Linked DNA regions of Homo sapiens. The protein of the gene in region 1 interacts with the protein of each later gene in a pairwise test. Each region holds a gene or a part of one and is shown on either strand. Other genes may lie near its edges.

Region 1 (4,520 bases):
TAGCTCCCTGTGTGGGGTCCTGGGGGGGTCTGGGAGAGCTGGAGAGGGGGCACCCTAGCTCCCTGTGTGGGGTCCTGGGGGGGTCTGGGAGAGCTGGAGAGGGGCACCCTAGCTTCCTGTGTGGGGTCCTGGGGGGGTCTGGGAGAGCTGGAGAGGGGCACCCTAGCTTCGTGAATGGGGTCCTGGGGGGGCCTGGGAAAGCTGGAGAGGGGGCACCCTAGCTTCCTGTGTGGGGTCCTGGGGGGGTCTGGGAGAGCTGGAGAGGGGCACCCTAGCTCCCTGTGTGGGGTCCTGGGGGGGTCTGGGAGAGCTGGAGAGGGGGCACCCTAGCTTCCTGTGTGGGGTCCTGGGGGGTCTGGGAGAGCTGGAGAGGGTGCACCCTAGCTTCCTGTGTGGGGTCCTGGGGGGTCTGGGAGAGCTGAAGAGGGGGCACCCTAGCTCCCTGTGTGGAGGGCTGGGGGAATTCTGGAGAGGCGAGCTGGAGAGGGGTACCCTAGCTCCCTGTGTGGAGGGCTGGGGGAATCCTGGAGAGGAGAGCTGGAGAGGGGGCACCCTAGCTTCGTGTGTGGGGGGCTGGGGGAATCCTGGAGAGGAGCACCCTAGCTTCATGCATGAACCAGCAGCACAAGTCCCAGGCTCACTACGAGCTGCACTTGCACAGGTGACCCAAAACAACGCAGCAGAGGCTCTGGAGGCTGAGCTGACATTGGAAGCTTTGCACAAAGAGGCAAGGAAGAGCTTGGGCACTGGAATTAACCGTGTTGGTTGTTGCTAAAACAAACAAACAAAAAAACCTGACACGCTAAAGGATTTTTAAAAATACCCAAAGTCTCAAATATGTAAAATGTCCAGGTTGCAATAAAGCGTTATTTGGCGTAACAACAACCAGGAAAATCTGAATAATTCTCAAGCGAGAAGAGAACCAGTAGGGTTAGATTTTTCCAGTAACATGAAATTAGACCGACACACACACACACCCACACACACACACACAAAATCAAAGAAATGAAAAATTATGTTCTGGTAAATATGAACTGGAACAATTAGTGTAATTGCACTTTTTAAAATGTATATATTTCCTGGCTGTTCACTGAAGGAATCTAGATGAAATGATACCCCTTGAGCTCTAAGCTTGGTTTCTCAACATAACCTCTCAACGAGGCTCAGGCTCTTTAGAGGAACAGCTAATTCCACGTCTGGAAGTTCAAGGTGAGCCTGGCCTCTCTTAGTGGCCAAAAAGCAAGGAAGTTTTCAAAGACCAACAGGGCATGTCAAAAGGACTCAGGTGCCAGCTTGAAGGGATCTGGCCAGCCCAATTTGGGATAATTTGAGTCTCAAGAAGATATTGACCACCAAAGAGTCTACTGTCTGGTTCCATTAATATGAAGTTCTAGAAAGTCACATGCACACAGTTACAGAAATACAGAAATCAGGCCAGCAGAAGGTTGCACAGGGGGACAAGAGCACCCTCCCGGGTGATGGAAACGTTCTGCACCTGGGTGGGGGTGTGGGTGACACAGGCATAGTCATGTGTCCAAAAACCCAATCAACTGCACATTTAAAAATCTGCACTTAACTATATGTAAATTACAGTAAGTCCTCACTTAACATCAATGGATTCCTGGAAACTGTGATGGTTAAGTGAAGTAATGTATAGCAGGTCCTCAAATAACATCATTTTGTTCAACATTCTTTCTTCCTTTAAAAAAAAAAAAAAAAAAATTCTGGGGCCGGGCGCCATGGTTCAACCTGTAATCCCAGCACTTTGGGAGGCCGAGGTGGATGGATTACCTGAGGTCAGGAGTTCGAGACCAGCCTAACCAACACAGAGAAACCCCATCTCTACTAAAAAATACAAAATTAGCCGGGCGTGGTGGTGCGTGCCTGTAATCCCAGCTACTTGGGAGGCTGAGGCAGGAGAATTTCTTGAACCCGGGAGGCGGAGGTTGCGGTGAGCCGAGATGCGCCACTGGACTCCAGCCGGGCAACAGGAGAGAAACTCCATCTCAAAACAAACAAACAAACAAATAAAAATAAATAAATTTAAAAAATACTCTGTAGAGAAGGGGTTTTGCCACGTTGCCCAGGCTGGTCTCGAATGCCTGAGCTCAAGCAATCCACCAGCCTCAGCCTCCCAAATTGCTGGGATTACAGATATGCAGCACTGCGCCTGGCCAACACAGTTTCATTATAGTTTCTGAGAAGAAAAAAAATCTGTTTCATTATACATCATCTTACTTAGTCATTTCACTTAAAATTGCAGTTTCTAAGGACCTATCAACAACATAAAGTGAGGGCCTACCGTGTACCTTAACATACCTAACGTGTGTGTGTTGGGCGGGATTTGGCTACGGTTGATGTTAAAACATTAAACACTGAGGCAGGAGGATTGCTTGAGCCCAAGAGTACAAGGCTGCAGTGAGGCAAGATCATGCCACTGCACTCCAGCCTGGGTGATGGAGTGAGAGACCTTCTCAAAAACAGAAACAAAAAAGTTAAACAAAAATCCTCTAATCCATAGTAATACTTTAAAAAGAGAGGAAAAATGAAAGGAATAAACCCATTTTGCCATGCCCTACCTTGAAAATTAAAAATAATTTAAAGGGAAAAAGCATTTATCTTGCTTAAAAAAAAAAAAAGCGTATTATCCCTCTCGTATCTTGCTTTTTAAGGAATAGAGTTCATTTCTACCTGATCTGCACAAAGCTCTTCGTTATAAAGGAAACAGCTAATACACACAGAGGAACAGAATCTGAAGATATCATCCTGGAGCCCCATGGACCCCACGAGACATGGATGCTGACACCATCCAGTCAAACGTTGAGGACAGAATATTCACACAGCGCCAGAACCTCCCTCGAGATGAGCTGATAGTCATAAAGGGAAACATCCCAAAAGTTAGGGCACTTCCACACGGCCACAGCACCACAGCACCACGCATCGAAAGGAAGGTGTAGAAACCCCACAGTCCCACCTGTTCTCTGTGGTCTCGATGCCTCTGCGTCCGCTTTCCTCTTGTTATCCGCCCACCTCGGTCTCCCAAAGTGCGGGGATTACAGGTGTGAACCACCACACCTGGCTCTGCGTCTACTTTCTATATGCACATTCTACTGAATCACCTGGCTGGAATCGAGTTTCACCTTCTCCAGAAAACCTCCTTGTGTAGGTACAAATATGCACACCTCATCTCCCCAACTACGTGTCACTTCTTACGTGATTCACAGCATCCAGTCAAGAAATGTGCTGAGCCGACACATTAACAACGGGGAGTTCGGGTGGAGATGCCATCTAAGAGCCTCAGCGCACTCATGGCCACATGAAAACCCTCGCAGTTTCTGCAGGTGGAAGAAGCCCAGCACAAAGACCCACCTACTGTAGGGTTCCATTTACATCAAATGCCCAAACAGGCAAACCCAGAGACAGGAAGTGGATCAGTGGCTACTGAGGGCTGGGGGAGGATGGTGACAGGTAAGGGATGCCAGGTTTCTTTTTGGAGTGATGAAAATATCCGAATGGGGGGGTGAGGGGAGGGGGAATATCAGGATAAACAGCTAATGCATGTGGGGCCTAATGCCCAGGTGACGGGGTGATGGGTGCAGCAAACCACCATGGCATGTGCTTACTTATGTAACAAACCTGCACTTTCTGCACATGGATCCCAGAAATCAAAGTAAAATTAAAAAAAAGAAAAAAAAAGAAAATGTCACTATTGACTGGCAATAGTCATGCCACTAAAAGTCATTGAATTCTGCACTTTAAATGGGTGAGTTGGATGGCGTAACTTTACATCCCAATAAAGCTGTTAACAACCAAAGAGCCTACGGAGACAGAGTTCACAATCTCTAACCAATGCCACTTGGTTTGTCCCCGCAACATGGACCTCGCGGGCAGACAAGCTCATCGTGACAAGGACACCAGCAGCTCCATTCCCGGCACTCGCTCTGCCCCAGGCTCGGTGCTCAGCGCTCACACACGTTGTTTTGAGGAATTCCTAGAACATCCCCATAAGGTACTGAGGAGATGGAGGCTGGAGGCCAGGCTAGATCATGGGAAAGCCACCTCAGGCTGCCCAGATGACTGCAGAGGCAGCACCAGCTCCTCCCTACCTTGCGATACGAAGCACCCTCCTCCGCTTTAGCGACTCGCTGGTTCACGTAGAACACACGGGGGATGCTCAGCCTGATGCAGTGCAAGTCACTGCCAACGAGCGCCCACAGCCTGAACAGGCCGGCCTGGCTGGTCTCGCTGATCTGAAAGGCCACACGGACATACAGCACATCACAGGACACACTGGAACCCACAGACGGGGCCACCTTCCAGGTAGCTTGCAGCTCCCAGCACAGGGCCTTAGGCCTCCCTACGATGGGCAGGAAACTCCAGGCCCACTCTAACCCTCCCATCCCAGACCTCAGGGCCCAGCTGGACACCCCCTCCCTGGGCCATCAGCAGAGCCACTGCCCTCCCCTTGGATCAAGGTCTATACCTGCACAATCTGCCACGGAAGGTCCAGGATGCTGCGG
Region 2 (4,369 bases), on another chromosome or scaffold:
TGGTCTAAGAAGAGGGAAGAGGTAAAGTAAAATATAAACTGAAATCTAGGCTGAGTGTGGTGGCTCATGCCTGTACTCCCACCACTTTGGGAGACTGAGGCAGGAGTATAGCTTGAAACCAAAAGTTTGAGACCAGCCTGGGCAACAAAGTGAGACCCCATCTTTACTAAATAACTGAGATCCCATCTCTACTAAATAAATAAATTAAAACACAAAAATTCTTAGCTGGGCATGGTGGTGTGCACCTATTGTTCTAGCTGTTTGGGAAGTTGAGGCAGAAGGAGTGCTTGAGCCCAGGAATTTGAGGCTGCAGTGAGCTATGATTGCACGACTGCACTCCAGGCTGGGTAACAGAGGGAGACCCTGTCTCTAAAAAAATGAAAACAACAACAAAAAAACCCAGAACTGAAATCTGTCCATTGGATTTAGCAGGTAGAAGGTTAATAGTGATCTTTCAAGAAAAGAGGAAAGAAAAGGAAGGCAGTCTAGCACTCACTTGAGGTGAGCTAGTCTCCCTGACTAGGTCTCCCGTGAGGAAGCATGCCAGATGGAACCACTCCTTAAGGAGTATTTGTTGATTTTAATGTATTGGTGTTAGCTTTTGTTTTTAAAAACCTTTAAAAGTTGCAGAATGAAAATATAAACATATATAATTTAAATGATGTTTATAAAGCAGATACCTATCTAGCCACTCCCTAGGTCAAACTATAGAATATGACCAGTATCCCACATATATCCCTCTCTGATCAAAATGTCTCTGATCAGAATGTCCCTGGGAGGTGACTGCTGTGGTCATTGTTGCCTTAGTTTTCCCTTTTTTTTTTTTTTTTTTGAGGTGGAGTGTCGCTCTGTTGCCCAGGCTGGAGTGCAGTGGTGTGATCTCAACTCACTGCAACCTCTGCCTCCTGGGTTCAAGCAATTCTCCTGCCTCACTGTCCTGATTAGCTGAGACTACAGGCACGCGCCACCATGCCCAGCTAATTTTGGTATTTTTAGTAGAGATGGGGGTTTCATCATGTTGGCCATAATGGTCTTGATCTCCTGACCTCGTGATCTGCCCTCCTCGGCCTCCCAAAGTGCTGGGATTACAGGCATGATCCACCGCACCCGGCCTAATTTTGTATTTTTATAGGGATGGGGTTTCACCCTGTTGGCCAGGCTGGTCTCAAACTCCTGACTCAGATGATCTGCCTGCCTCGGCCTCCCAAAGTGCTGTTTTTTTTTTTTTTAATTGTCTTTTTGATAATTCCACTATTTTTTTTTTTTTTTGAAAAGTCTCCCATGTCTACCTCTTTCCACACAGACACGGCAACCATCCGATTTCTCAATCTTTTCCCCACCTTTTCCCGCTTTCTAGTCCACAAAACCACCATTGTCATCGTGGCCCGTTCTCAATGAGCTGTTGGGCACACCTCCCAGATGGGGTGGTGGCCGGGCAGAGGGGCTCCTCACTTCCCAGCAGGGGCGGCCGGGCAGAGGCGCCCCTCACCTCCCGGACAGGGCGGCTGGCCGGGCGGGGGGCTGACCCCCCCACCTCCCTCCCGGACGGGGCGGCTGGCCGGGCAGAGGGGCTCCTCACTTCCCAGTAGGGGCGGCCGGGCAGAGGCGCCCCTCACCTCCCGGACGAGGCGGCTGGCCGGGCGGGGGGGGCTGACCCCACCACCTCCCTCCCAGACGGGGCGGCTGGCCGGGTGGGGGGCTGACCCCCCACCTCCCTCCCGGACGGGGCGGCTGGCTGCGTGGGGGGCTGACCCCCCCACCTCCCTCCCGGACAGGGCGGCTGGCCGGGCAGAGGGGCTCCTCACTTCCCAGTAGGGGTGGCTGGGCAGGGGCGCCCCTCACCTCCCGGACGGGGTGGCTGGCCGGGCAGGGGGCTGACCCCCCCACCTCCCTCCTGGAGGGGGCGGCTGCCGGGCGGAGATGCTCCTCACTTCTCAGACGGGGCGGCTGCCGGGCGGAGGGTCTCCTCCCTTCTCAGACGGGGAGGCTGGGCAGAGACCCTCCTCACCTCCCAGACGGGGTCGCGGCCGGGCAGAGGCGCTCCTCACATCCCAGACGGGGCGGCGGGGCAAAGGCGCTCCCCACATCTCAGACGATGAGCGGCCGGGCAGAGACGCTCCTCACTTCCTAGATGGGATGGCGGCCGGGCAGAGACACTCCTCACTTTCCAGACTGGGCAGCCAGGCAGAGGGGCTCCTCACATCCCAGACGATGGGCGGCCAGGCAGAGACGCCCCTCACTTCCCAGACGGGGTGGCGGCCGGGCAGAGGCTGCACTCTGGGCACTTTGGGAGGCCAAGGCAGGCGGCTGGGAGGTGGAGGTTGTAGCAAGCCGAGATCCCGCCACTGCACTCCAGCCTGGGCACCATTGAGCACTGAGTGAACCAGACACCGTCTGCAATCGCGGCACCTCCGGAGGCCGAGGCTGGCGGATCACTCGCGGTTAGGAGCTGGAGACCAGCCCGGCCAACACAGCGAAACCCCGTCTCCACTAACAAAATACGAAAACCAGTCAGGCGTGGCGGCGCGCGCCTGCAATCGCAGGCACTCGGCAGGCTGAGGCAGGAGAGTCAGGCAGGGAGGTTGCAGTGAGCTGAGATGGCAGCAGTACAGTCCAGCTTCGGCTCGGCATCAGAGGGAGACCGTGGAAAGGATAATTCCACTATTACTTGTCTTTTGGGGTTTGTTTTTATTCTCTCTTTGAGTTTTGTTTCCTTATGCGCCCAGTTACTTTTGAAAATGTTCTGGGCAGATTTGCCTAGATTAATAAATGCCCTCCATGTTCCAATTACTTTTTTTTTTTTGAGACAGTGTCTTACCCTGTCACCAAGCTGGAGTGCAGTGGTATGATCTTGGCTCACTGCAACCTCTGCCTCCTGAGTTCAAGTGATTCTCCTGCCTCAGCCTCCCAAGTAGCTGGCATTACAGGCACCTGACACCACGCCCAGCTAATTTTTTTTTTTTTTTTTTTTTTGAGACGGAGTCTCGCTCTGTCACCCAGGCTGGAGTTCAGTGGCATGATCTTGGCTTACTGCAAGCTCTGCCTCCTGGGTTCACCCATTCTCCCGCCTCAGCCTCCCGAGTAGCTGGGACTACAGGTGCCCGCCACTATGCCTGGCTAATTGTTTTTTTTTTTGTATTTTTAGTAGAGATGGGGTTTCACCGTGTTAGCCAGGATGGTCTTGATCTCCGGACCTCGTGATCCACCCGTCTCAGCCTGCCAAAGTGCTGGGATTACAGGCATGAGCCACCGCATCTGGCCTATTTTTGTATTTTTAATGGAGACCGGGTTTCATCATGTTGGCCAGGCTGGTCTTGAACTTGAACTTCTGACCTCAAGTGATCCACCCTTAGCGTCCCAAAGTGCTGGGATTACAGGCATGAGCCACCGTGCCCGGCCCCAGTTATTTTTATTTTTATTTTTTGAGTTAGAGTCTCACTCTGTCACCCAGGCTGGAGCGCAGTGGCATGATCTCGGCTCACAGCAACTTTCTGGGTTCAAGCAGTTCTCCTGTGTCAGCCTCCTGAGTAGCTGGGACTACAGGCACACATCACCACGCCCGGCTAATTTTTGTAGTTTTAGTAGAGACGGGGTTTTACCATATTGGTCAGGCTGATATTGAACTCCTGACCTCAGGTGATCCACCCACGTCAGCCTCCCAAAGTGCCGGGATTACAGGCTTGAGCCATCTCGCCCGGCCTACTTAGATGTTATATTAGTGGTAATTCCTGTTATCCTGTGAGCTCTTTAGTGTCTAAACAATTTTTTTTAAGAGATGGGGTCTCACTGTGTTGCCCAGTTGCAATCATATCTTACTGCAGCCTCAAACTCCTGGGTCAAGTGATCCTCTTGCCTTAGTCTCCCAAGTAGCTAGGACCATAGGTGTCTGCCCCCACGCCTGGCTGTTTTTACATTTTTTGTAGAGATGTGGCGGGTGGGGGGGTCTCACTGTGTTGCCCAGACTGGTCTCGAACTCCTGTCCTCAATTGATCCTGCTACCTCAGCCTCCCAAAATGCTGAATTACAGGCATGAGCCACTGTACCTGGTCTTAAACAATTTTAAAATAACATTTTTATCCAGGATTTTAGTTAATTTTCAACAGGTGGATTAGTTCTTGCTGTATTCTCGTAAACAGAAGTCCTGGTTTATTTTTATTTGTTTTAAACATTGAATCCCATACTCCTCCCCACCTTACCCTACCCAGAATTTAGACTGTTAATGTTTTGAAGCCACAGCCTGCATCTTAATCACTATTTTATCTTAGTGCCTGGTCTTAGAAATTATATTGACTCTTTGATAGACCATATATAAGGCAGGTGGATGAGAATGTGGGTAGCTAGTTGGAAAAGGCTGCTTGGTCATTTGCTT

Evidence for each region. Proteins that work in one complex are often made in the same cells at the same time.
Region 2: the proteins of POLE (region 1) and WHR1 interact in a two-hybrid assay, tested with the Homo sapiens proteins (one study listed by BioGRID and IntAct).

The regions. Positions count from the first base shown.
Region 1 is NC_000012.12:132,644,823-132,649,342, forward strand, and holds part of POLE (DNA polymerase epsilon catalytic subunit A), read right to left. Parts: coding exon 4,484-4,520; intron 4,251-4,483; coding exon 4,107-4,250; intron 1-4,106. UniProt on the Homo sapiens protein: Catalytic component of the DNA polymerase epsilon complex. Participates in chromosomal DNA replication.
Region 2 is NC_000006.12:31,974,388-31,978,756, forward strand, and holds part of WHR1 (winged helix repair factor 1), read left to right. Parts: intron 1-4,369. UniProt on the Homo sapiens protein: DNA-binding protein which is required for efficient transcription-coupled nucleotide excision repair (TC-NER). Acts as part of a TC-NER complex which assembles and interacts with RNA polymerase II (RNAPII) when it stalls at DNA lesions.